Linked DNA regions of Homo sapiens. The protein of the gene in region 4 purifies or fractionates together with the protein of the main gene of each other region. This does not show direct contact. Each region holds a gene or a part of one and is shown on either strand. Other genes may lie near its edges.

Region 1 (3,766 bases), on a different chromosome or scaffold from region 4:
CTGTAAACTATTTTCCTGGGTTCTGACAAAGTTGTTTCTGAATGTTTTTGCTTGATTTTTCAATGTTTCTGTGGAGGAAAAGGTCCTTGAAGCTACCTACTTGGCCATTTTTGCTGATGCTACTCTTGGTTACATTCTGAGGGCCCGACATTGTGTATGAAAATTGGTAGAGCTAATTTATGGTTCTGGATGTTAAAATTATCTGGAGATTTATTTTTGCTTCTGTGAGGCAGTGAAATTAGTTGCATCAGCATTCTCAGATAACTTAAACAGTCATGGAATGAGATGACTTAAAGCTGGACTTCAGGCTGTGTGAGGGCCTACTTCTCACTAACCTTGCACCTAGGATAGCCCCTTGGAGTGCAACTAAAAGCCTGCAAGTTTACTAGGCTCCTTCTTCTTTGGTGGTACCTGCATAGTTTATTTTGGGAATGTGAATGCAGCTTGCCTAACCCTCTAAATATACCCATTGCCAGATAAGAAATTATGGAGCAAGCAGGTTAATGTAGAAACCACATTTATTAACCATGGATTTACTGAGGGCAGTTTATTAGGTATTATCCATCGCTTATGCTGACATCTGATTTTGCAGAGAAATTATAGCCATTATTTTATTAAGATAATTCTACGAGATCAATTTAGTTTCTTGAAGTAGCATATATTCAATTCTTCAATAGGGTTTGGTTTAATTTAGCTATCAAAGTCAGATGTCTCTAAACTTTACACACTAAACTCATCGTGAGCAGAAAATTTATTCTTTGTACATATTCCTTCTGTTTTGGTTCTTCAAGCTGAAACATCTCAACTTCCAGAAATATGGTTGCCAGATCAAAAATACCAGAGTCCTAAGGGTTAAGATTTGAATCGAGAAAAAGATACATGTACACATTGTATTATATACAAACAAGCAACAACAAAAAGTTTCATCATGTAAACAAAAGAATATAAATTATAGACATAATTGGAAGTTTCAAACAGTCCTTAAATCATTGTGAGCTTCTCTAAAAGGCACAGGTCTTGGAGTGTGGGCACAGAGCCATTAGTCAGATGTCTGGGTGGTCTCCCATAATAGCAATGTATACTCTTAAGTGGGCTTTTTGTGAACTCTGTCAGGGTGAATGAGTTAGGCCTCTTAAAGGAATGAAATGCTTTCACATTTGGGGCAACAAGTGAAAAATACTGAAAGGAGGGATACAACTAGGGTTAGATTTATTGTTGACAGTGATTTTAGAAATAACCACTAAAAAGGTGTTAAAAGATTTCTAGATAAAATTCTGACTACTGAAAATAAGAAAGGATACCTTTTGTAGCTCTACAAATGGTTTGGTGAAAAATAAAAAGGGAGAAAGTGAGCCGAGGAGAAAGCGAAATAGGGAAGTCTAGGGAGGATGCAAGAAAATACACAAGTCATAGCAAGAAAAAAAACATGAGATGGTCCTTTCTAAGGACAGATGTTGGTGATATTTACCTATGTAAGCTCAAGCTGAGAAGAGTACAGTTCTTATATATTCATTACTTAATAATATACAAGAAAAATACTTTTCATTTGTTATAAAAGAACTACTTTATATGAAAACTAGAAATACGTATTTACATTGCAAATCCCAAATGAAACCCAATTTAATACAAAGTGAACTATAGGGATGACAGAAAAATGGGTAGATATCAAAATTCAACTGAATTTACAGTACTGCCTTATATCTTTTTTAAATTTTGTTTTTGAGACCGAGTCTTGCTCTGTTGCCCAGGCTGGAGTGTAGTGGTGTACCTTTGGCTCACTGCAACCCCGCTTCCTGGGTTCAAGTGATTCTCGTGCCTCAGCCTCCCCAGTAGCTGGGATTACAGGAGTGTGCCACCACGCCCGGCTAATTTTTAACAGAGACGAGGTTTTGCCACGTTGGCCAGGCTGGTCTCAAACTCCTGGGCTCAAGCAATCCACCCGCCTCAGCCTCCCAAAGTGCTGGGATTACAGGCATGAGCCACCGCGCCCGGCTGATATATATATTCTTTTAAAATCTATACACAAGGCTCAAGTTCTGGGGTTTCAGGTTTTATTTTTAAGTTTTCTTTAAAAATAAAATTGCCAACCCCCAAGTGAATTAAAGGTTGATCTGGGCTCGCAGAGGTAATCTGCTCTTTGTAACCAAGTGCTCTGTAGTTTCTTCCACTTTAGACCTCTCCAGTGTGTTAATGCCTCTGTTTTCTTTGTCTTTTCCATGTGATTTTTTATGCTGTGGATTTAAGGCGGGAAAATTAAGTCAATACAAAGTAACATTAGATACACATTAACTACACTCTATTTTCAAAGTTCTCTGGGTTATAGGCAAAAAAACTTAAGTGTAGAAAACCAAAAAAGGTTCAGCACAAGTTTGAGCCAACAATTTGGCAAGTAGCGCCAAATGCCTTCTTTATTTGATCACTAATGGAAGGAGTAGAGTGAAAGAAATATTAATTTTCTGTGTTATTTTCTAAGACATAGTTATAGATTTTACTCCAGGGTAGTGGTTCTCATCAGGGAGTGATTCTGCTGCCACAGGGGACATTTGGCAATGCTGAGAGACTTTTTTGGTGTTACAATCAGGGAGTGCTACTGGCTTTGAGTGAGTATTCACATAGTACACTGTTTTTCTTGTGTACCAACATAGTACAGTCCACAGGAAAGCCCATCACAACAAAGAATTATCCAGTTTAAAATGCCAATAGCACTGCTGTCAAGAAACCCTGCTCTAAGGAAACAAAGATTTGCTGTCATGCAGAAAAGCCAATTCTGTTTTAAGCAGAGAAACTGGTATATGGGCCACCTTAAAAACACTTTTACTTGTTTTTTAAAATTGTATTTTATTTTATTTGTAAAACCTATTTCATATTCCTCATTTGGAAGTTCTATTTCATTGGAATCCTACTTACCCATACAGAACATTAATGGACTGGTGACATTCATTGTACACTCAGTCATCAATGCTGAGACAAATTGTAAACCAACTTTTAAAGTTTTAAACGCAGAGAAAATCCCCACATCACACTGCTACTAGGGAAAAGATCATTTCTGGACTTCAGCTGAAGGTCTAAAACCCCATCCCAAACCCTTTCTGGTACTGTAGGGACTTCCTTGCCATAGCTGAATCACTAAGCCTAATTCAAAATGCCACAGATAATAATAATAAAACGATTTCTGACCAGGGATTAAGTAGTCACCAGGTTCTCTTATCCTTCCCCCTTTCCTAACTTTATAAGATAGAAGAAAAGGATGAAAACTGAAAGAAACATATTTATAGTTCTCTAATAGTAAGGAATAAAGCAAAAGGTGGCAAGAATTTGGGAATAAAATTGCCCAGAGGAAGACAGGGAGGAATTTATGAGAATCTGAGTTGGAACTTTGTTAACTGTTGAAAGCAGGGATGGAGAATCTTTAGACCTTAAGGGAAGGAGCTGTAGATCTATTAAAAAACAGTTACAGGCCGAGCGCGGTGGCTCACGCTTGTAATCCCAGCACTTTGGGAGGCCGAGGCGGGCGGATCACCTGAGGTCGGGAGTTCAAGATTAGCCTGACCAACATGGAGAAACCCCTTCTCTACTAAAAATACAATATTAGCCAGGTGTGGTGGTGCATGCCTGTAATCCCAGCTACTCGGGAGGATGAGGCAAGAGAATCGCTAGAACCCGGGAGGCGGAGATTGTGGTGAGCCAAGATCAGGCAATTGCACTCTGGCCTGGGCAACAAGAGCAAAACTCCGTCTCAAAAACAAAAAAACAAAACAAGACATAC
Region 2 (3,500 bases), on a different chromosome or scaffold from region 4:
TCTCATTACTTCAGTACAAATCTTTTTAATATTCTGTGTAGTGAAATGGAAACTACATATTAACTACTTCTGTTGCATATCAAACTATGAGGGTTAGCTAGAGAAAAATCACTCAAGATGGGAGTTATAAGCTCAACTAGTCACTTTTTTCATGCGACACCATTTTTACTTGAATGACAACTATCAATCACGACTGAGTGTCTGAAAGATACTTTCTAGAAAATGAACAAAGTGAGGCTGTCATCTACAAAGGAAACAACTGAGCTTGTCAATGATAAAATGTGAGTTTTCAATAGAAAATTAGAATGTTGGAAAAGTTGTGTGTGACACTATGAACATAGTGCCTTCCCAAAATGTAAATGATTTTCTAATAACATCAGTGGTAATATTAATGAATGTAAGTTTTGGATATTGCATATGAAATACATCAACATTTAGTAGGTCTGCCCAACTCAATGAACCAACATTTTCTAAATGAGCAATGCCTGGTGTTATAAAATCATACATGGGTAAAATATTCATTCAATGAGCAAGATACACAAATAGATTTTAACAAAACAGGGTATAAAAAGCTCACTGATATGATTTAGCGTTCCATATTACAACAATTAACCTTTAATAAACTAATATTTATTGAATTTTGATGCAGTATATCAAAGAAATCTGCAATTATCTAAAAAGCTATTACAATACTCCTCTCTTTACAGCAACATACCGTCGTAAGGACAAATTTTCTTCATATACTTCAACCAAAACAACCTAACAGAACAGACTGAATGAAGAAGCAGGTGAGAATTCAGCTGCCATCTATTCGGCCAAACACAGAGATGTGCAAAAATGTGACAATGCCAGTTGTTGCAACAAAAATGTTAATGTTTTGGCATAGTTATTTTTCTTTTAAAAATATGCTATTTATGTTAACAAGCAATGAGTTTGTACTGCTATCTTTAGCTACCACTGCCTAATACTATAACTACTGATAACAGCACACAAAAGCAAAAGCTCTTTGAAATCAGTAATTTTTATGAGTAGAAAGGGTTACTGAGACTGAAAAATATAAAAACTGCTAGTGTAAGGACACATAAGTATCTATTTAATACTCTGCATAACACAATATTTGTGATGGAATACAATTTCACATAACATTGTTTTGTCTTTACTTTTTAAAAGAAAACCTATGAAAGACAGGTCACCCTGAATTTCAAAGAGCAAAGAAAATTGAGAAACATGGCCAGGCAGGGTGGCTCACATCTGTAACCCCAGCACTTTGGGAGGCCAAGGCGGGCGGATCACTTGAAGTCAGGAGTTCAAAACCAGCCTGGCCAACGTGGTAAAACCCTGTCTCTACTAAAAATACAAAAATTAGCTGGGCATGGTGGCACATGCCTGTAATCCCAGCTATTTGGAAGTCTGAGACAGGAGAACTGCTTGAACCTGGGAGGCGGAGGCTGCAGTGAGCCAAGATCGCGTCACTGCACTCCAGCCTGGGTGACAGAGCAAGACTCCATCTCAAAAAAAAAAAAAAGAAAACTGAGGAACACATCTTTATACCACTATTTTAACTAAAAACTACAGGAAAAACTGTGTTCTACAAAGATAGTAAGATCTAGTCCCAAACTGGTACCAACATATTCCTATCTCTTTTTACTTCAAAATTACTTTCTAGAAAATCATAATCACAAAATTAGATTTTATTAACTAAAGAAAAAAATAATTACCAAACCCATATCATCAGCTAAAATTCCTCCATGGACATTTTCTGGTCGGTCCTTCTCAGAAAAATTTGTTATTGTGTTATAGTATAAGTCATTTCGCTGTTCCCAGAATGGTGGAAGTTCTTTGCTATTTTCCCGTGACACCATCCAAGCTAGAGCTTGTTTTTGATGTGGAAGCAGTGGTGTTTCAATAGCCTATAAATAAAAAGTCATAAAGCGAAATACATTAAGCCATTCCTTTTTCACATGCAGATCCTGTGATTAAACAAAAAGTAGATTCTAAGTATATTTAAACATTCTGAGTAGTCTTAAATAAAAAATATTGGTTCAATACCTCAGCTGGTTCCATTTCATGGGTTTTATCATCTTCTTTTAAATCTTCAAACAATTTGTCAAATTCTGTTTTAAGCTACAATAAACAGCAACAAGAAACAATGTAAAACAAACTAATTAAAATAATACTTGCATTTAAGTCAGATTTGAAATCATTTAATTAACTGGCGTTAATGTCAAACGGGCCAGGAGTGGTGGCTCATGCCAATAATCTCAGCACTTTGGGAGACCAAGGTGGGAGGATCACTTGAGCTCAGGAGTTTGAGACCAGCCTGGATAACATAGTGAGAGATCCCATCTCTACAAAAAAATTTTTAAAAAATTAGCCAGGCATGGGGGTGCATGCCTGTAGTTCTGGCTCCTAGGGATGCTGAGATGGGAGGATCACTTCAGCCTAGTAGGTAGAGGATAGAGTGAACCATGATTATGCCACTGCACTCCAGCCTGGGCAAGAAAGTGAGACCCTGTCCCAAAAAATTAAGAAATTGAAATTAAATTAAATTTAAAAACCACAAACTAGTCAAACGCCAAAAAGGCACATAAATCAACTCTAGAATTACACTACTCACTGAAGAGCGAATGAACAGGTGCTTTAGTTGTTAGGAGGTAAAAGAATATAAAAGAATTTTAAGTCCCGAGTTTCAGTCACAGTTTTATCACAAATAAGCTTATATGTAAGTTTCAGCAAGACTTGACCTTTATGGCCCCATGTCTTATTCCTATAAAATGAAAGGGATGAACTAAATTTAGATTGTCTCTAAGGTTCCTTCTGCCATTAAAATTCTGTGATGCTATCAGTTGTATTCAAAATATTTTCTCAGTCCTACCAGGTCAATGACATTCCATTTATTATTACTGCAATAAGGAACTTGCCATGCACTATAGGATACTTTTATTATTATGCTAACTTAATTGACTATTTAAACTAGGTTAGTCCAATTTTATATCAACATATATGTGATACAGATATTTTTGAAAATTAACACATGAACACAGCAGCAGCTCAGAAGAAATCAGGCCAGGTCTAAAAAATCAGAAGTAACCGGGGGCTTATCTACCAGAAACAAGCTCAAGTCCTTCTAACAATAAGCAGGGTAAATATGGTAACTACAATTAGTAGATAAAAGGACTAACACTGGTAGATACAAACATCAAAAAAGTTTTAATGTTATTTTTAAATTGATCTGCATTAATTACTTTATATACTTTTTTTTCAAAGAAATTCAGCATAACTCATCCTAAATTACAAATTAGACAATGTGAAGAATTTGGAGTTAAATCTTTAGCACTGCATTTGCAAAATTACTGAAAGGAGTTAAGTCTCAGCTTCAATTTTTTTCTTAAAATTACTACTTGAACATTTAAAACATTTCAGATACAAAAATATGCCGTGCATAAACAGGAACGTGTGTGTTTTGTATGTTGGGTACAAATGTTCACGTATGGATTTAT
Region 3 (3,500 bases), on a different chromosome or scaffold from region 4:
AGAAACCCCTCCGTAGTAAAAGCCATCTTGGCACAGCCGTTCTTTGAGGCTGGTGCCTCTGCGGGCAAACTTCTTTGGAATTCGTCCTCCAGAGAAGGTGGACTGCAGATCCGCACGCTTTGCGCTGAGCTTCTTGTACTGAGCCTGGACATGGTACTGACAGTACTCACAGTCACGCTGCAAAAGGCAGAGCAGTGGCATCAGGATGAGGGCAACAGGCTGGGAAACAGCAGTGAGCAGACACAGTTCCTTCTCCCCACTTCCCGGAACATGACGCATGCAGAGTCCTCCCTGCTGACCTCCACGACCGTTCCCAATGTGGAAGGGCTGCTCAGTCCCTGAGGGGAAGAAGTTCTTCCCTTCGAGTCCCCTGAAAGCACTGTTCTGGTGAAATACCCCTTGCCCTCTTTCTACAAAGGAAATCAGCTTTTAGGATGAACCTTGAAAACAAGTTAGGTGAAAGAAGTCAGACACACAAGGTCCTATGTTATTTAATATAGGACCTATGTTATTTAATATAAAAGGAAGTTTTTATAGAAGAGGCAAATCCATAGAGACAGAAAGCAGATTAGACGTCACCAGGAGACGGAGGGAGTGGGGATGGGAGTGATGACTTTATGGTGCCATTGTTTTTACAGGGTGATGGAATTCTGAAACCAGGGAGCTGGTGGTTACACAACTAAATATCACTGAATTATATATGTATTTTAAAATGATTAACTGTATATTGTGAATTTTGACCCAATAAAAAATAATTTAAAAACAAAATCAGCTCCCAGCGAGGTTTTTCTAGCTGTTTCTCTGGTTGATCCTCGGACAAGTGCTATCCTTTCAGTGAAAGAAACAAAGAGAGATGGTGCAGCATTGTTCTGCTGGGTGAACAGTAGTTACGGCGACAATGGATTTTTTTTTGGAGACAGAGTCTCGCTCTGTCACCCAGGCTGGAGTGCAGTGGCGTGATCCTGGCCCACTGCAACCTCCAACTCCTAGGTTCAAGTGATTCTTCTGCCTCAGCCTCCCAAGTAGCTGGGATTACAGGTGTGCACAACCACGCCCAGCTAATTTTTGTATTTTTACTGGAGACGGGGTTTTACCATGTTGGCCAGGCTGGTCTTGAACTCCTGGCCTCAAGTGATCGGCCCACTTCGGCCACCCAAAGTGCAGGGATTACAAGTGTGAGCCACCGCCCCATCCAGACAATGGATTTTTAAGAATCTAATTCTCACGGGGAGATCTGTTGGGTACTTCACTCTGAAACCTCATTTTCCAACCGTCTCCCACCTTATTCTTTCCTGTCCACCAATTAATCTAATAGGAAGGAATAAGGGAATAAAAAAAGATTAAACCAAAACCTGTCATTTAATCCTTTCAAAGAACTCTAAGAAGTACCTCTTCACACCTACTACAATGGCTATAACAAAAAAGAAATAGAGTAACAGGTGCTGATGAGGACAGGGAGAAACTGGAAAGTTCATCCATTGCTGGTGGGCCACTTGGGAAACCAGTCTGGCAGTTCCTCCAAACTCTGGACAGTTACCATGTTGACCCAGCAATCCCACTCCCAGGTATATGCCCAAGGGAGTGGAAAACATACATCCACATAAAAACTTGTATGTGAGTGTTTTAGCAGCATTATTCATAATAGCTAAATGTGGCAACAACCCAAGCGTGTATCAACTGATGAAAGAATAAACAACGTATGGTATATCCATACAATGGAATATTATTTACCCACAAAAAGGAATAAAGTGTTGATAAATGCTACAGCACGGATCAATTGTGAGAAAAATTATGCTAAGCAAAAGAAGCCAGACAGAAAAGGCCACATATTGTGATTCCATTATATGAAATGTCTAGAAGAGGCAAATCCATAGAGACAGAAAGTAGGTTAGTGCTTACCAGGGGCTGGGGGAGAGGAGACTGGGGAGTGATTGCTAGTGGGTACTGGGTTTCTTTCTGGGGCAATGAAAGGGTTCTGAAATTACACAGTGGTGATGGTTGCACAGCTCTGTGAATGTACTAGAAATTACTGAATTGTTGACTTTATTTATTTATATTCTTTTTTGGAGACAGAATCTCACTCTATCGCCCAGGCTGGAGTATAATAGTGCGATCTCAGCTCACTGAAACCTCTGCCTTCCAGGTTCAAGTGATTCTCTGGCCTCAGCCTCCTGAGTAGCTGGAACTACAGGCGCCCACCACCATGACCGCCTAATTTTTGTATTTTTAGTAGAGATGGGGTTTCACCATGGTGGCCAGGCTAGTCTCAAACTCCTGATCTCAGATGATCTGTCCGCCTCGACCTCCCGAAGTGCTGAGATTACAAGAGTGAGCCACCACACCTGGCCTGAATTGCTTACTTTAAAAGGGTGAATTGCATGGTATGTGAATTATACCTAAATGAAGCTATTATTTTTTAAAAAGCCCTAAGAAAAGGTATAATGGAGTTAAAATATAGGCTAAAATACAATTTTCATTGTATTTCATCATGTTTGCTCTGTGGAATTACAAGAATTAAAGGCAAACAAAAATTCTGTCTTAAACTTCTTGGTCAGATAAAAGATCACTTTCCTAAGAGGTTAAATCCCCTCACCTTTCCCCTGCCCTCACTTTTTTAAACTGGCAGTTATTAACCACACATTAAATTTTCTCATTTTGACTCTTCCTTTAAGTGGGAAACTCAGTTCCAAACTGGTCATCACAGCTAAAGCACCAACAGTTTATTCCTAACTGTTCTTTTCTTTAGCAGAAACCATCCTAACAAGGCTGAAACCAACCAAATTCACAGTCTGCGTGCACGGCTCTCCATTCTTCTTCTTGGCTTTACAGGTTCCCAGGTCAAGAGCTTCACCCATAATTAAGACCTTCTGAGGATGATCGATAGATAAACACACCTGTAAGAAAAGGTGGGGCAGGAGTTAAAGGCGGACAAAATTATGGCCTTTTATTAGCAGGAATAGAAAAAAGAATGGTTGGTGCTGATTTAAGAAGGTTATTGCCAGGCGCAGTGGCTCACACCTATAATCCTAGCACTCTGGGAGGCCGAGGCAGGTGGATCGCTTGAGGCCAAGAGTTTGAGACTAGCCTAGGCAATGTGGCAAAACCCTGTCTCTACAAAAAACCACAAAAATTAGCCAGGCATGGTAGTGCGTGCATGTAGTCCCAGTTACTTGGGGGGCTGAAGTGGGAGGATCACTAGAGCTTGGGAAGTCCAGGCTGAAATGAGCTGTGATCACACCACTGCACTCCAGCCTGGGCAACAGAGTGAGGCCGTCTCAAAAAGGAGAGAGGTTTTAGTGGTCTAAAGGAATTTGAAGCCAGGGCTCTATAACCGTTTTAGGAACAGGGATGCAGAAGGCACCTTCAGTTCTTTTCCCATTTTCCATCCTTTCCTTCATCTTTGCGATTGGAATCCTGATTTTCTCTAGGCTGGCTGACTTCTCAGCCTCAGGTCATAGATCCTGTTCCCTGTTCTCCCAGCACTCCTTAGAGCTAGCATT
Region 4 (3,500 bases):
AGGAGGCACTCACTTGCTGGCTCCAGGCCTGGTAGTAGGCTCCCAGGAACAACAGGCAGGCAACGGGCACTGGGCCCACGGCTCTCCACATCTCAGGTCTGGACAGCAACTTCAAGGTCTGCCTTAGACACGGCTCAACAAGAGGCTGGAGCCCAGACACCTGTGTCCAAGTGACTAAGGAAGGGGTGGCCGAGAGGCTGGCCTCAGCAGAATCACTACAAAAGTGCCAAAGGGTGCCACAGTGAGGATCTGGCTGCCTCACGCCCCTTTACACTCCAGCCACCCCAGCCCTGTGGAGGAGCCCTCCACCTGTCCTGTGGGTCCTGGCTATAAACTACCTGATGGTTTCAGCAGGGGTACTGCCGGCTGCCAGGGTTAGCTGGGTGAGGAGAGTGAGCAGTGAGGCTATCCGCTGCATGGACAGGGGTTGAGGTGGGTGGGTGCTGAGCTCCCGCGGCACCACCTGCAAGGCCCGCATCAGCACTGGGTAGAGCTCCCTAGGGAAGAACAGGGACTGATTTTCACTGTATGAAAGCAAGTGGAGACATGAGACACAGGTCATGGCCCTGACCCAGGGATCTGCAGTTTGATAAAGGAGGATGAGGAGGAAGAGTGGGGCACTCTTGGAAGGCTCAGCCCTAAAGAATGGAAAGGATGTTGTCCTTCAAGGCTGCCCCCAACAGGGAATTTAAATGTGATTTCACAGATACCAATGCTTTTTTTTTTTTTTTTTTGAGACATTCTCTGTTGCCCAGGCTGGAGTGCAGTGGAGTGATGGAGTGATCTCGGCTCACTGCAACCTCTGCCTCCCAGGTTAAACCGGTTCTCCTGCCTCAGCCTGCCGAGTAGTTGGGATTACAGGTGTGTGCCACCACGCCTGGCTAATTTTTGTATTTTTAATAGAGACGGGGTTTCACCATATTGGCCAGGATGGTCTCGAACTCCTGACTTCGTGATACGCCTACCTTGGCATCCCAAAGTGCTGGGATTACAGGCATGAGCCACAGTGCCCGGCTAATGATTTTGAGCATAGAATACGGTTAAGCCAGGTTTATCCCCCTCTTCCCTGGCTGGGCCTGACTCCTAAGCCTTTTCACATCTGGCAGAAGCCCTCCCACTCATTCTTATCCTTCCTCCAAGCTTGGGACCTTGAGCAAGGCTGAGGTGTTTGATTTGGCCAGAAGAGCAGAACTGAAGGTGTCTAGGGGGAGCCTACCCCCTGCCTCTCCTCACCTGTAAAGGTAACCGCCCTGGCCATAGGAGGCAGCCACAGCCCACAGACGGAGGGCCTCGGTGCTCAGCATCTCAGCTTCCTCTGGGGGCAAGGCCAGTTCTTGGGGAGCCTCAGCTATGATGCGGCACAGGCGGCTCCGGAGATCAAAGCTGCTCAACTGGAAATGGGCACAGTCTGAGGATCAGGGTCAGCTGTGAGTCTCAAGTCCAGCTACTCTCAGCTGGACAGAGAGTGGCTTAACTCAACCCTGACCCAGGCCCCTCTGGTGCCACAAAGTCATACCTCATCCACCCTGCCCTTCCTTCTTATTATTTATTTAAAATTTCAATTTTATTATTTTACTTTTTATTATTTATTATTATTTTGAGATGGAGTCTTGCTCTGTTGCCCTGGCTGGAGTGCAGTGGAGTGATCTTGGCTCACCACAACTTCTGTCTCCCAGGTTCAAGAGACTCTCCTGCCTCAGCCTCCCAAGTAGCTGGGACTACAGGCATGCGCCACCATGCCCGACTAATTTTTGTATTTTTAGTAGAGACGGGGTTTCATTATGTTGGCCAGGCTGGTGTCGAACTGCTGACCTCGTGATTCACCCACCTCGGCCTTCCAAAACGTTGGGATTACAGGTGTGAGCCACCGCACCCAGCCCCTATTATTTTTTTATTTTTATTATTATTATTTTTTTAGATGGAGTCTCGCTCTGTCGCCCAGGCTGGAGTGCAGTGGCGCAATCTCGGCTCACTGCAATCTCTGCCCCTCCAGGTTTAAGCAATTCTCTGCCTCAGCCTCTGGAGTAGCCGGGATTACAGGCGCATGCCACCACGCCTGGCTAATTTTTTGTATTTTTAGTAGAGACAGGGTTTCACCATCTTGGTCAGGCTGGTCTTGAACTCCTGACCTCATGATCCACCTGCCTTGGCCTCCCAAAGTGCTGGGATTACAGGTGTGAGCCACCGCGCCCGGCCCTATTATTTGTTTTTAGATGGAATCTTGCTCTGCCACCCAGGCTGGAATGCAGTGGTGTGATCTTGGCTCACTCCACCCTCCATCTCCCGGGTTCAAGCAATTCTCCTGCCTCAGCCTCCCAAGTAGCTGGGACTACAGGCGCACACTATTATACCTGGCTAATTTTTGTAGTTTTAGTAGAGGTGGGGTTTTGCCATATTGGCCAGGCTGGTCTCGAACTCCTGACCTCAAGTGATCCACCACCTCGGTCTCCCAAAGTGTTGTGATTACAGGCGTGAGCCACTGCACCTGGCCAGTAGTAGTATTTTTGAGACGGGGTCTCGCCCTGTTGCCTAGGCTGTAGTGCAGTGATTGGTGCAACCAGCCCACTGCAGCCTCCACCTCCCAGCTCAAGTGATCCTTCTACCTCAGCCTACCGAGTAGCTGAGACTACAGTCATGTGCTACCACATCTAGCTAATTTTTTGTTTTTGTTTTTTGTAGAGACAGAGTCTTGCTATGTTGTCCAGGCTGGCCCCTGAACTCTTGGCCCCAAGTGATCCTCCTGCCTTGGCCTCCCAAAGTGCTGGGATTACAGGCCTGAGCCACTACACCCAGCCCTCCCTCTTTATAGCAAGGCTTGCTGGGCACCTTCTCTAGGGCTACTTGGCTATAGATGATGAATGCCTATGTGCATGAAGCCCTTCTGATCTGGGTCTAGGGAACAGGGAGACCTCCTATTACATCATGAGACCACAGTATACCTATATGATGCACCAGGCTCCAGTAAACAGGCTCCAGTAAACAGGTTCATGCCTGGTGATTTCTGTTGCATTTCTAAGCAACTGGATCAGAGAGGAAGAAGATGGCAAGAGCTGGCCACCCAGAGTTCAGGAGCCATGTTTAGCTCCCAACCCAACCCTGTCCCATGCATTCCCCCATCCCTTGCCCTGTGTCCTGCTCACCAGCCGGGCAGCAATATTCCTCCCAGCTGAGGCCAGGACACGAAGTAGTTTCATGGCAGTAGCACAGGGTACTTTGTATAGACTAGGGGTAGGCCCTGCCCCCACAGGAGACCAACTGGTGGGCAAGAACTCTCGAACTATAGTCTCTATCAGCCGAGGGCACTCCAGGACCTATGGGAGACAGGAGGTAAAAGGGAGGAAGGGAGGCTGTGGGTCAAGACAAGGCCCAGCTAGGCTTTTTGCCCATTCCCTGCTCCCTTTTTTCTCACCCTTGTGGCTGATTCCAGGGAATGCCGGGCCAGGCGGATGAGCACAGCCAGGATGTCAAGGACCACCGCAGGTCCTGGGTATGTCACCTCC
Region 5 (3,500 bases), on a different chromosome or scaffold from region 4:
TTCAGCCTCCCAAGTAGCTGGGATTACAGGCATGTGCCACCACACTCAGCTAATTTTGTATTTTTAGTAGAGACGTAGTTTCACCATGTTGGTCAGGCTGGTCTTGAACTCCTGACCTCAGGTGATCCACCCACCTCGGCCTCCCAAAGTGCTGGGATTACATCGTGAGCCACCGCACCCAACATAAGAATGGTTTTTACCTTTTAAAGGGTTGTAGGAAATAACAAAGATTATGTGATAGAGTCAGTATGTGGACAGCAAACTGCCCTATTTAGTCTTTGATCTTTTACAGAAAAAGTTCAAATTTTATGTTGTTACTAATTGCAGACAACCCGAATAAACATACTAGAGCCTGGGATTAAATGGCACGCAGCCTTTTTTTTTTTTTTTTTTAAGTACAATTTCCATTTTATTTTTTCTCTGGAGAATAGTCTGTTTTTAGTCGTTTTATTTTCATTTTTTTTTTTTTTGAGACGGAGTCTCGCTTTGTTACCCAGGCTGCAGTGCAATGGCACGATCTCGGCTCACTGCAGCCTCTGCCTCCCAGGTTCAAGCGATTCTCCTGTCTCAGCCTCCCTAGTAGCTGGGATTAGGGGTGTGCCATCACGCCCAGCTAATTTTTTGTATTTTAGTAGAGATGGGGTTTCACCCTGTTGCCCAGGCTGATCTCGAACTCCTGAGCTCAGGCAATCCACCCACCTCGGCCTCCCAAAGTGCTAGGATTACAGACATGAGCCACCACGCCTGGCCTTGTCTTCAGTGTTGAAGGACTCAGCTCCTTACATGGGCTTTGGTGGGTGTGTTTGGTCCTTGTGGGCTTTACAAGGTGGATTCCTGACGACTTTTCTGTGAATTGCACATCTCACACAGTAATTTAGCTTCACATACAGCTTGGGAAGCACATAGGCATTGAAGACACTCGCTTCACAAATGTCCCTGACTGCTGCGGCCTCCACCACATTTCGAATGATGAATTTTTTTTTTTTTTTTGAGACAGAGTCTCGCTCTGTTGCCCAGGCTGGAGTGCAGTGGCGGGATCTGGGCTCACTGCAAGCTCCACCTTCCAGGTTCACATCATTCTCCTCCCTCAGCCTCCCGAGTAGCTGGGACTACAGGGGCCCGCCACCATGACCCGCTAATTTTTTTTATTTTAGTAGAGACGGGGTTTCACTGTGTTAGTCAGGATGGTCTCGATCTCCTGACCTCGTGAGCCGCCTGACTCAGCCTCCCAAAGTGCTGGGATTACAGGCGTTAGCCACCTGCCCAGCCTCGAATGATGAAATTTCTTAATGGCCTTGTCCTTGGGCACACGTCGGGCACAGTTTGTGCAACGAATAGGCTGCATGTGGCTGTGCCCCTTTTTGGCATGATTGTTGTTCCTTCTTTTCTTTGTCATCTTGGAGGCACGGACTGGAGGGAGGAGTGTAGCCATTATTGATCATATTTTTGACTAATATTTAGTGAACTAGAAGTTGCTTATTTGTGATGTCAAGTAGGATACAAATAACACAGTATGATTATAATTTTGTAAAAATGTATAAAGTGTGTATATATGTATGAAAAAAACCAAAAATTCTCTAATGTATTAATAGTAGATATTTTGAGATGGTGGCATGATTTTTATTTATAAAGTATTTCTTATGATTATAGAATCATATTTTAAAATTTTTCAGTATTTTAACTGAGTGGGAAACATTTCCTGTCAAATAAGGATATGGAGACCAGTCCATGGTACTTTAGATTAAAAGCTGAACTCACTGGGAAAAACCTTATTTTGCATGTGTAACTAGTAAAGCAGAAACAACAGTGTACTGTTCGGCACTGTCTGAATAGTAATTATAGAGTACAGCTTTCATACAGAAAAACAGAACCAATAAGGAAGTCAAACTTGGCAGAATAGTTGAGTGCAATTTATAAATAAGTCAGTTGAAGAAATCATCGACCTTTTACCTGTGGCTGATTCGTGTAATGGTGAGAGTCAGCACAAATCTTAACATTTAGCAACAGCATGTATGTGAAGCTAAAACTTGTAATGCTCTCATCTTTAATGTATTTTAAGGAAGTTGATGCCTAAAGTAAATTTATTAAAAATTCAGAGTTAATTATTTAAGATAGTAATAAATTTTGTGCTCTCTTTGGCTTGGTTGTTCTTTATCTTTAACAATTTTAAGAGCTCTGTTCATAAATATCAGTCTTGTAAAGCCCATTGTTCTATACCTGATTTTTCTATTTTATTTTTAAGGTCTTTTTGGTTCATCACGGGTGCAATATGTTGTAGATCATGCAATGAAAATTGTTTTCCTCAATACTGACCCCTCTATTGTAATGACTTATGATGCTGTTCAAAATGTGCATTCTGTGTGGACTCTCCGGAGAGTCAAATCAGAGGTAAGGAGAAAGGCAAGTCACTTCTCCTTAATAGGAAAGGGTAGGCTGGGTGCACTGGCTCACACCTGTAATCCTAGCATTTTGGGAGGCCAAGGCAGGCGGATCACTTGAGGTCAGGACGTTCAAGACCAGCCTGGCCAACATGGTGAAACCCCATCTATACCAAAAATATAAAAAATTAGCCAGGTGTGGTGGCTTCTGTAATCCTATCTACTCGGGAGGCTGAGGCAGGAGAATCACTTGAACCTGGGAGGTGTAGGTTGCCGTGAGCCAAGATCATGCCACTGCACTCCAGCCTGGGTCACAGAATGAGACTCCATCTCAAAAAAAAAAAAAAAAAAAGTATATATATATATGAAAGAGTAGTTAATACTTCATACCCTCACTTTTTTTTTTTTTTTTTGGAAAAATCACTTGTGAATAGTTTTATTATCATCATCATCATCATCATCATCATCATCATCATCATCATCATCTCTAGAGACAGGGCCTCACTCTGTCACCCAGGCTGAAGTATAATGGCACAATTACAGTTCACTGCAGCCTTGAACTCCTGGGCTCAAGTGATCCTCCTGCCTCAGCCTTCCGAATAGCTAGGACTACAAATGTGTACCACCACTCCCAGCTAATTTTTAATTTTTTGTAGAGATGGGATCTTGCTATGTTGCCCAGGCTGGTCTTGAATTCCTTGGCTCAAGCTATCCTCTCTCCTCACCCTCCCAAAGTGCTGGGATTATAGATGTAAGCCACGGCACCTGGCCTCATTTGAGAAATAGATTGAGCTTCTTAGGAAAGAAGAAATACTGTGTCTTTAGTAACTGACTTCAACTTGCATTCTTACAAGGAAATTGCTACTTTATTCTAATTATTGTTTTTTTTTTTTTCCTCTTTCTCTTTATTTTGACTTAAGGAAGAGAATGTTGTTTTAAAGTTCTCTGAACAGGGGGGAACCCCACAGAATGTGGCCACTAGCAGCTCCCTCACAGCACATCTCAGAAGCCTCTCCAAAGGAGATTCCCCTGTGACTTCACCTTTCCAGAATTACTCCTCCATTCACAGCCAGAGTCGCTCAACCTCATCACCCAGTCTACATTCTCGCTCACCTTCTATTT
Region 6 (2,885 bases), on a different chromosome or scaffold from region 4:
CATGCACCACGGCTTTATCACTCAGTTCTGAAATAGGCCAAATGCATGGGACACATGAACACCAGACAGAGATACTTACTTCTGCTTCACAAACTCATCAGTGATGAGCTTCTTCACGTCCCCAAAGAGTGAATGATGTATCCTGAGAGAAGAAAAAGAAAAATAAATAAACAAATAAATTCACTCAAGGCTATGGCACTTCCCAGATGTGGGCAGAGGCATTTCCAAGATGGAAAAGAGGTTTCCAGCACAAGAGGGAAGCTCCATAGAAGCCCAAGAGACACTGAGAGAGGGAGCAGAGAGTTCAGGACCATTCACCCATCATCCACCCAGGTCAGAACCCTGGGCCCTCTACCCAGTCCAGCACCCCACCCGCTCCACCAGACCACCAGACTGATGCAATCCTAGGACCGTCCTCTCTTGCCAAAGGACAACACGGACAGCAAGCGCTGAGAGAGCCCAATCATACCCAGGGCGCAGCCCCAACTTGCGCAGCACCTCCCAGATGACAGCTGCGAGGGGAGGCAAGAGGAGACAGGGACAGAAATTGAACACATGGAATCTAGACCACAGCCACCCATTCAGCTGCAAGCCCAGCCACTCACCCTCACTGGACCGATTTCCATTCATGAAGATGATGCTAAGAAGCACCATGAGCAGACCCAGCTTGGGTGAGTCCTTAGTCCTAGAGAAATAACAGGACAGAGAGGTTTATGTTCAGCAGCCATCTGCAACAGACACACCAGCCAACTCACTAGGCTAGCCTCTCCCAGATTCCTCAGATACAGAATTCTACCCAGTCTCTGCTTCCAGCTCTATGCCACCCTTGGCAAGGCACTTAGACTTGCAAGCCTCAGTCTACTCTTCAGTAAAATAGAAAAAATCATATTTTCCCTTCCCTGGGTTTCCAAGAAGATGGAAGAATGGCTGCCAACCTGGTACAACACAAGCACTCAGTCAATGTGAGTCCCTTCTTTCTGTCCCAGAACCTTCAGCCCCACTGACACTCCTGCGCTTCATGCATCCTGATCCACCCACACCAGGAAGCCCTCCTTGAGAACCACTCTGCCAAAGCCAGGCCAGGCACCCAGTAGGAAGAGGCAAGCAACGACAGGCCTGCTTTCCTGGGAAGCTTCTACAGAGACAGCAAACCTGACAGCAGGAATGTCCCACTCCAGGCTCCTACACCCTCCAGTCAATCATAATCAGGTGCCACCACTGTAAGCAGGGCTCCAACTATGCATAGGAACTGGGACGGGGCTTTTGAGACCCTGTCTTTCCTGACTCTCTAAGAGGATGGGGGAAGTAGGACAAAGGAGGAGTAGCAGCACATGGCCAAAGCAGAAGCCCCCCACACCTCAGCCCTTTCCCAGCTTACGTTCCCAGTATGCCTGCATCAGTGGGCTCTAAGGTGCTGAGAAGAATGTACAAGTGGTCATTCTTATCAATTTCCTTCAATTGAATCCCAAATACCTGTGGATGGGGAGAACAGCTTGTGAGATGACAAAATTCAGCTTCCGGGGCATGCTGCAGCTCCCTATGTACCTAGGAGTTTCGCATGTGTGAGAAATCAGTGAGATAATACGCACAAAGTACATAGCTAAGTGCCTGGCACCCGGTAAACACGCTGCAAATGTACTATTGTCATCATCATCTTTGTGGTGAGTGGGACTCTAGGGAGACAGAGAATGGGGAATGAAAGGGAGAGGTGAAATCTCAAATACATGGCAGGAGCTGCCATGGACGGACAGAAGCCAGGATTAAGTTGGGTGTCTTGGGTCCTAGCTGCACTTTTACCATTGACTTGCTGTGTGACCCATCGCTAATCTACACCCCTCCCTAGGCCACTGTCTGCCCCTCAGCATAGCGATGGAGCTGGATTAGCAGGTCTCTTTGGTTCCCGAGAAGGGACTTGTACATTTTTGTTCAATTCAAGGCTTCCCCACTGTGCCCATCCCCCAGGGCTGCCCCTTCACCTTCTCCAAGGAATAGCCTGCTCGTTCAATGATTTCGGGGTACACATCAGTGTATTCTTTGATGATGTCCTTCAGCATGTCTGCAAGGGGAGAGTGTTGTGAGCACCTGACTGAAGAGATGCCAGGTGGCCCTGATGCCCAAGCTATAGACTCTTTGCCAACCACACCAAGGGTGGCATAACCCGGTTCTGTGCTTATCAACAGAGATGCTAGCACTGCCAAATCAGAACTTTGGGAGGACAGAGACATAAGCATAAGAGCAGGGGATATCCCCAGCACAATGGTGTAAGGGCAATGGAGGGCAGAGCTCAGGGCAGAGGGAGGATTGGTAGGACTTTACCCGAGCGCTTGATGGGAATCTTCGTCTGGTCTTTAGCCAAAAGGTACTTCACCAAATCATTTGCCTGGCAGAGTAGAAAAAGATGGAAAGACCAAAACAAGTTTGCAGAAAACTTGAGACGATGGCAAAGAAAAGGACAGCCAAGGCAGTAGAAAAGGCAGAATAAAAACGACAGAGTTCTTACCCTCCCTTGCAAAAGGGCCACATCCCGAGGTGGTGGTGCTTCAGGCTCTTGGGATGACTGGAGCTTGGCAGCTCTACGGCGAGCCTTGCCCCTACGGGCTTTAGGTGATCTCAGGGAGAGCAAGGCTCTCCGGGCCCAAGCAGCCAACCGAGTCCTTGATGCCCTGCGGGCCCAAAAGGCTATGGGACCCCTTGAAGCCCTGCGGGCCATTGAGGCCATTAGGGCCTTTGAGACCCTTCGGCCACCTGTGGTTCCAGAAGCCTGACTCTGATCACTGCTGCCATCCTCTTCCCCATCCAGATGCTTCACCTGCATCAACAGAGAGGAAGCTCAACGTCACCAGATGAAGCAAGTGGTCCTTTTCCTCTCCCTATCTCTTCCAGGA
Region 7 (2,569 bases), on a different chromosome or scaffold from region 4:
AGCCAGGGACTTTCCCCTGGGTGGCACGCTGGGGAGTGGTGTCAGAGCCAGGATTTGAACCTGGACTCTCTGACCTTGAGACCCCTAACCATTCCCATCCCAAAGGAGACAAAGGAGATCAGTCTCACGGAGGGGACACTGAGGATGGCCCCAGGGCTCGGGAGTGACTATGGTTCCACATACAGACGAGGGAAGAGGCAGGATCCCCGGGTCACTGTTGGGGGAGCACTGGTGTGGGAAGCAGATGGAGGGGGGCCATACCCAGGGGCCACTCGGTGGGCCCACTGACCTGTGAACCTGGAGAAGAGGGGCATCTGGGTGGGAGCTGAAGGGCCGTGGGTCAGCCAGCACAGGGCACACCCGAACTGGGTGTCCCCTCGTGGGCTCCCGGGACCTGGCACAGGCTTACCTCGGAGGGAAGAGGTCCCCATCCCCTGGCACTCTATTACTGGGCTGTGGGCTGCTCACAAGTCATACACCATCACCCCTACACCAGCACATCGCAATGATCCCACTTCATTTATTACCAAAATATCACAGAATTCCAGTCATAGTTAACATACAGCGTTTAACACGAACCTGATACCTGTAGAAAGAACTGAGTATCGGGACAATTGAGTCGTTGGAACTGTAAGCCACGCCCCAAACCGCATCACTCCGTACTTCAAAAATACGATTTTTTGAGAGCTTTGGAAACTGAATTAAAATGTCTACACAGCTATGAACAATTGTTTAATAAAACTTTTTCATGTTTCCATTACATGTAAATATATCAATTTGGCATCTCTATAAAAACTCTGAAAATGGTGCAAAAGTTTCATTCTCTTTGAGAAAGCCATTGACAAAAAATATTCACACTTCACTAAAATTTTGAAAAATGGTCTTCTTTCAAAGCTTCTTTATTAATCTGAAGTCTTCTGGGTTATCAAAATCTAGGTTTGCTTTTTCCTCCTAAAACACTAAAGAACATTTATTCACAAGGATTAAAAAAAAAAAATAAAAAGGCAATGGGCTGATGGAAAACTGATAAGGGCTTTTCTTTTTTTTTTTCTGAAAATAATTTAAAAAGCTTAAAAGTTACATAGGCATCTTCAAAAGAACACAATGGGATTCATTTTATTGTTGACTTTTGGACACCAGTGTCAGACTTTATTGAAAACAAACCCATGTAAAAACAAAGTTAAAATGAAAAATGGCACCTGAAAAATAAATTATTTTATATAAAACAAATCAATAACTTAAAACACACTAATATACAAAAGGTCTAACCATCTACTGTACAACATGGGAATCGGTTAAGAGAGCCTCCCCTCCCCCAAAGCAAGTCACTGTAAACGGAACATCACATGGTCATGGTCAAAGAGGTGGCCCCAAACCAACGGAAAAGGCTTCTCTTCTGGTGGAAGAAAAATCCAGTCCTGTCAAAGTCTCCGTTAGCCTAACTTAGGTACTGGCGGTGACTTACAAGTGAGAAAAAAAAAATTTGTTTTTTTAAATGGCCAAGAAAGAAACCTGAACGATGTCACTGAAAGGTTGTAGAAAAATAGGATCCAGCCATTAGAGGTCAGGGGAAATCAAAAAGGTTTGGAAATGTGAACCCTGCCTGGGATCCGAGATTCAGATTCTACTGCCATCATTACACGCCAATTGCCAATGCCACTTAAAAGAAAGCACTTGTGACTTCAGGGCTGTCTTGCGAAGTTTGGGGACAGGAACCCCTGACCCCCAGAGTCAGCTAAACCCCAGGGGTCTCTGCTAAGGAGCTGCCTCAGGTCCTAGTAGGTGAGGTAGGTCTGGGGAAGATGGGAGGGGATTGAGGTGGAGGGTGGGGTGGAGGGACAGGATAGAGGCCTCCTGTCAGCTGAATTCTTATTCTCTTTCATCCAACACAGGAAGGCTGCGAAAAGCACATGGAAATAAAAGGGGGCTGAATCGGATGTGAAATGTAACAGCTGAGTGATGTCAATTTCGATTTTTCAAGTCCGATGCCGGACTGGGTAAGTCATGTCTTTTCAATGCCTGGTGGACAAATGGCCTTCATTTGGAAGCAAACCGGGTCAAGGAATTGCCACTAACCGTCTTCGGGTGCTTCTATTTCTCTGATCCAGCAGGGACCCCTGGGCTGCCGGCTCCAAAGGGCCGGTCTTGGCTCCCAACAGCAGCACGGTTCAGTCCCTGGAGGCTGGGTCTCCAGGACTAAGGCCAAGCGCAGACTCTCAGAGGTTAAGGCAGCTGCCCTTGGCCAGGAAAAGGCTCACCTTCCAGGAGAAGGTGGCGGAACCCACCCAGCACCACCTGCGGGCGGGCCCCCGAGGAAGCCCATGAATTTCAGGATATTCACGCAGGATGGTGGCCGGGGAGGGGACTCAGCACCCGGGAGGGAATCAGTCACAGAGCTGCGACTAGAGGCACAGCCAGCACAGAAAACTGCGGCTTGGCAAATTACACTGAAAACGAAATAATGGCAGAGCCAAGGGGGAACAAGGGAGAATTCATCAGGAAGCAGGTTCACAAATTCGGAGCTGCCTGGGGTCTAACTACCAGAGGAAGTTACACACGGGTCAAAAGG

Evidence for each region.
Region 1: the proteins of RPAP1 (region 4) and KIF11 purify together in Homo sapiens (affinity purification with mass spectrometry, with the first as the bait; one large-scale study listed by BioGRID). This does not show direct contact.
Region 2: the proteins of RPAP1 (region 4) and HLTF purify together in Homo sapiens (affinity purification with mass spectrometry, with the first as the bait; one large-scale study listed by BioGRID). This does not show direct contact.
Region 3: the proteins of RPAP1 (region 4) and MCM10 purify together in Homo sapiens (affinity purification with mass spectrometry, with the first as the bait; one large-scale study listed by BioGRID). This does not show direct contact.
Region 5: the proteins of RPAP1 (region 4) and ANAPC1 purify together in Homo sapiens (affinity purification with mass spectrometry, with the first as the bait; one large-scale study listed by BioGRID). This does not show direct contact.
Region 6: the proteins of RPAP1 (region 4) and MAGED2 purify together in Homo sapiens (affinity purification with mass spectrometry, with the first as the bait; one large-scale study listed by BioGRID). This does not show direct contact.
Region 7: the proteins of RPAP1 (region 4) and ELAVL1 purify together in Homo sapiens (affinity purification with mass spectrometry, with the first as the bait; one large-scale study listed by BioGRID). This does not show direct contact.

The regions. Positions count from the first base shown.
Region 1 is NC_000010.11:92,652,130-92,655,895, reverse strand, and holds the end of KIF11 (kinesin-like protein KIF11), read right to left. Parts: intron 2,232-3,766; coding exon 2,100-2,231; 3' UTR 501-2,099; downstream 1-500. UniProt on the Homo sapiens protein: Motor protein required for establishing a bipolar spindle and thus contributing to chromosome congression during mitosis. Required in non-mitotic cells for transport of secretory proteins from the Golgi complex to the cell surface.
Region 2 is NC_000003.12:149,069,534-149,073,033, forward strand, and holds part of HLTF (helicase-like transcription factor), read right to left. Parts: intron 2,125-3,500; coding exon 2,050-2,124; intron 1,911-2,049; coding exon 1,719-1,910; intron 1-1,718. UniProt on the Homo sapiens protein: Has both helicase and E3 ubiquitin ligase activities. Possesses intrinsic ATP-dependent nucleosome-remodeling activity; This activity may be required for transcriptional activation or repression of specific target promoters.
Region 3 is NC_000010.11:13,185,558-13,189,057, reverse strand, and holds part of MCM10 (protein MCM10 homolog), read right to left. Parts: intron 2,895-3,500; coding exon 2,778-2,894; intron 178-2,777; coding exon 1-177. UniProt on the Homo sapiens protein: Acts as a replication initiation factor that brings together the MCM2-7 helicase and the DNA polymerase alpha/primase complex in order to initiate DNA replication. Additionally, plays a role in preventing DNA damage during replication.
Region 4 is NC_000015.10:41,523,758-41,527,257, forward strand, and holds part of RPAP1 (RNA polymerase II-associated protein 1), read right to left. Parts: coding exon 3,410-3,500; intron 3,312-3,409; coding exon 3,141-3,311; intron 1,392-3,140; coding exon 1,234-1,391; intron 498-1,233; coding exon 339-497; intron 216-338; coding exon 14-215; intron 1-13. UniProt on the Homo sapiens protein: Forms an interface between the RNA polymerase II enzyme and chaperone/scaffolding protein, suggesting that it is required to connect RNA polymerase II to regulators of protein complex formation.
Region 5 is NC_000002.12:111,863,694-111,867,193, reverse strand, and holds part of ANAPC1 (anaphase-promoting complex subunit 1), read left to right. Parts: intron 1-2,242; coding exon 2,243-2,388; intron 2,389-3,298; coding exon 3,299-3,500. UniProt on the Homo sapiens protein: Component of the anaphase promoting complex/cyclosome (APC/C), a cell cycle-regulated E3 ubiquitin ligase that controls progression through mitosis and the G1 phase of the cell cycle.
Region 6 is NC_000023.11:54,810,745-54,813,629, reverse strand, and holds part of MAGED2 (melanoma-associated antigen D2), read right to left. Parts: intron 2,810-2,885; coding exon 2,501-2,809; intron 2,381-2,500; coding exon 2,317-2,380; intron 2,057-2,316; coding exon 1,977-2,056; intron 1,474-1,976; coding exon 1,379-1,473; intron 686-1,378; coding exon 606-685; intron 513-605; coding exon 470-512; intron 143-469; coding exon 80-142; intron 1-79. UniProt on the Homo sapiens protein: Regulates the expression, localization to the plasma membrane and function of the sodium chloride cotransporters SLC12A1 and SLC12A3, two key components of salt reabsorption in the distal renal tubule.
Region 7 is NC_000019.10:7,958,073-7,960,641, forward strand, and holds the end of ELAVL1 (ELAV-like protein 1), read right to left. Parts: 3' UTR 501-2,569; downstream 1-500. UniProt on the Homo sapiens protein: RNA-binding protein that binds to the 3'-UTR region of mRNAs and increases their stability.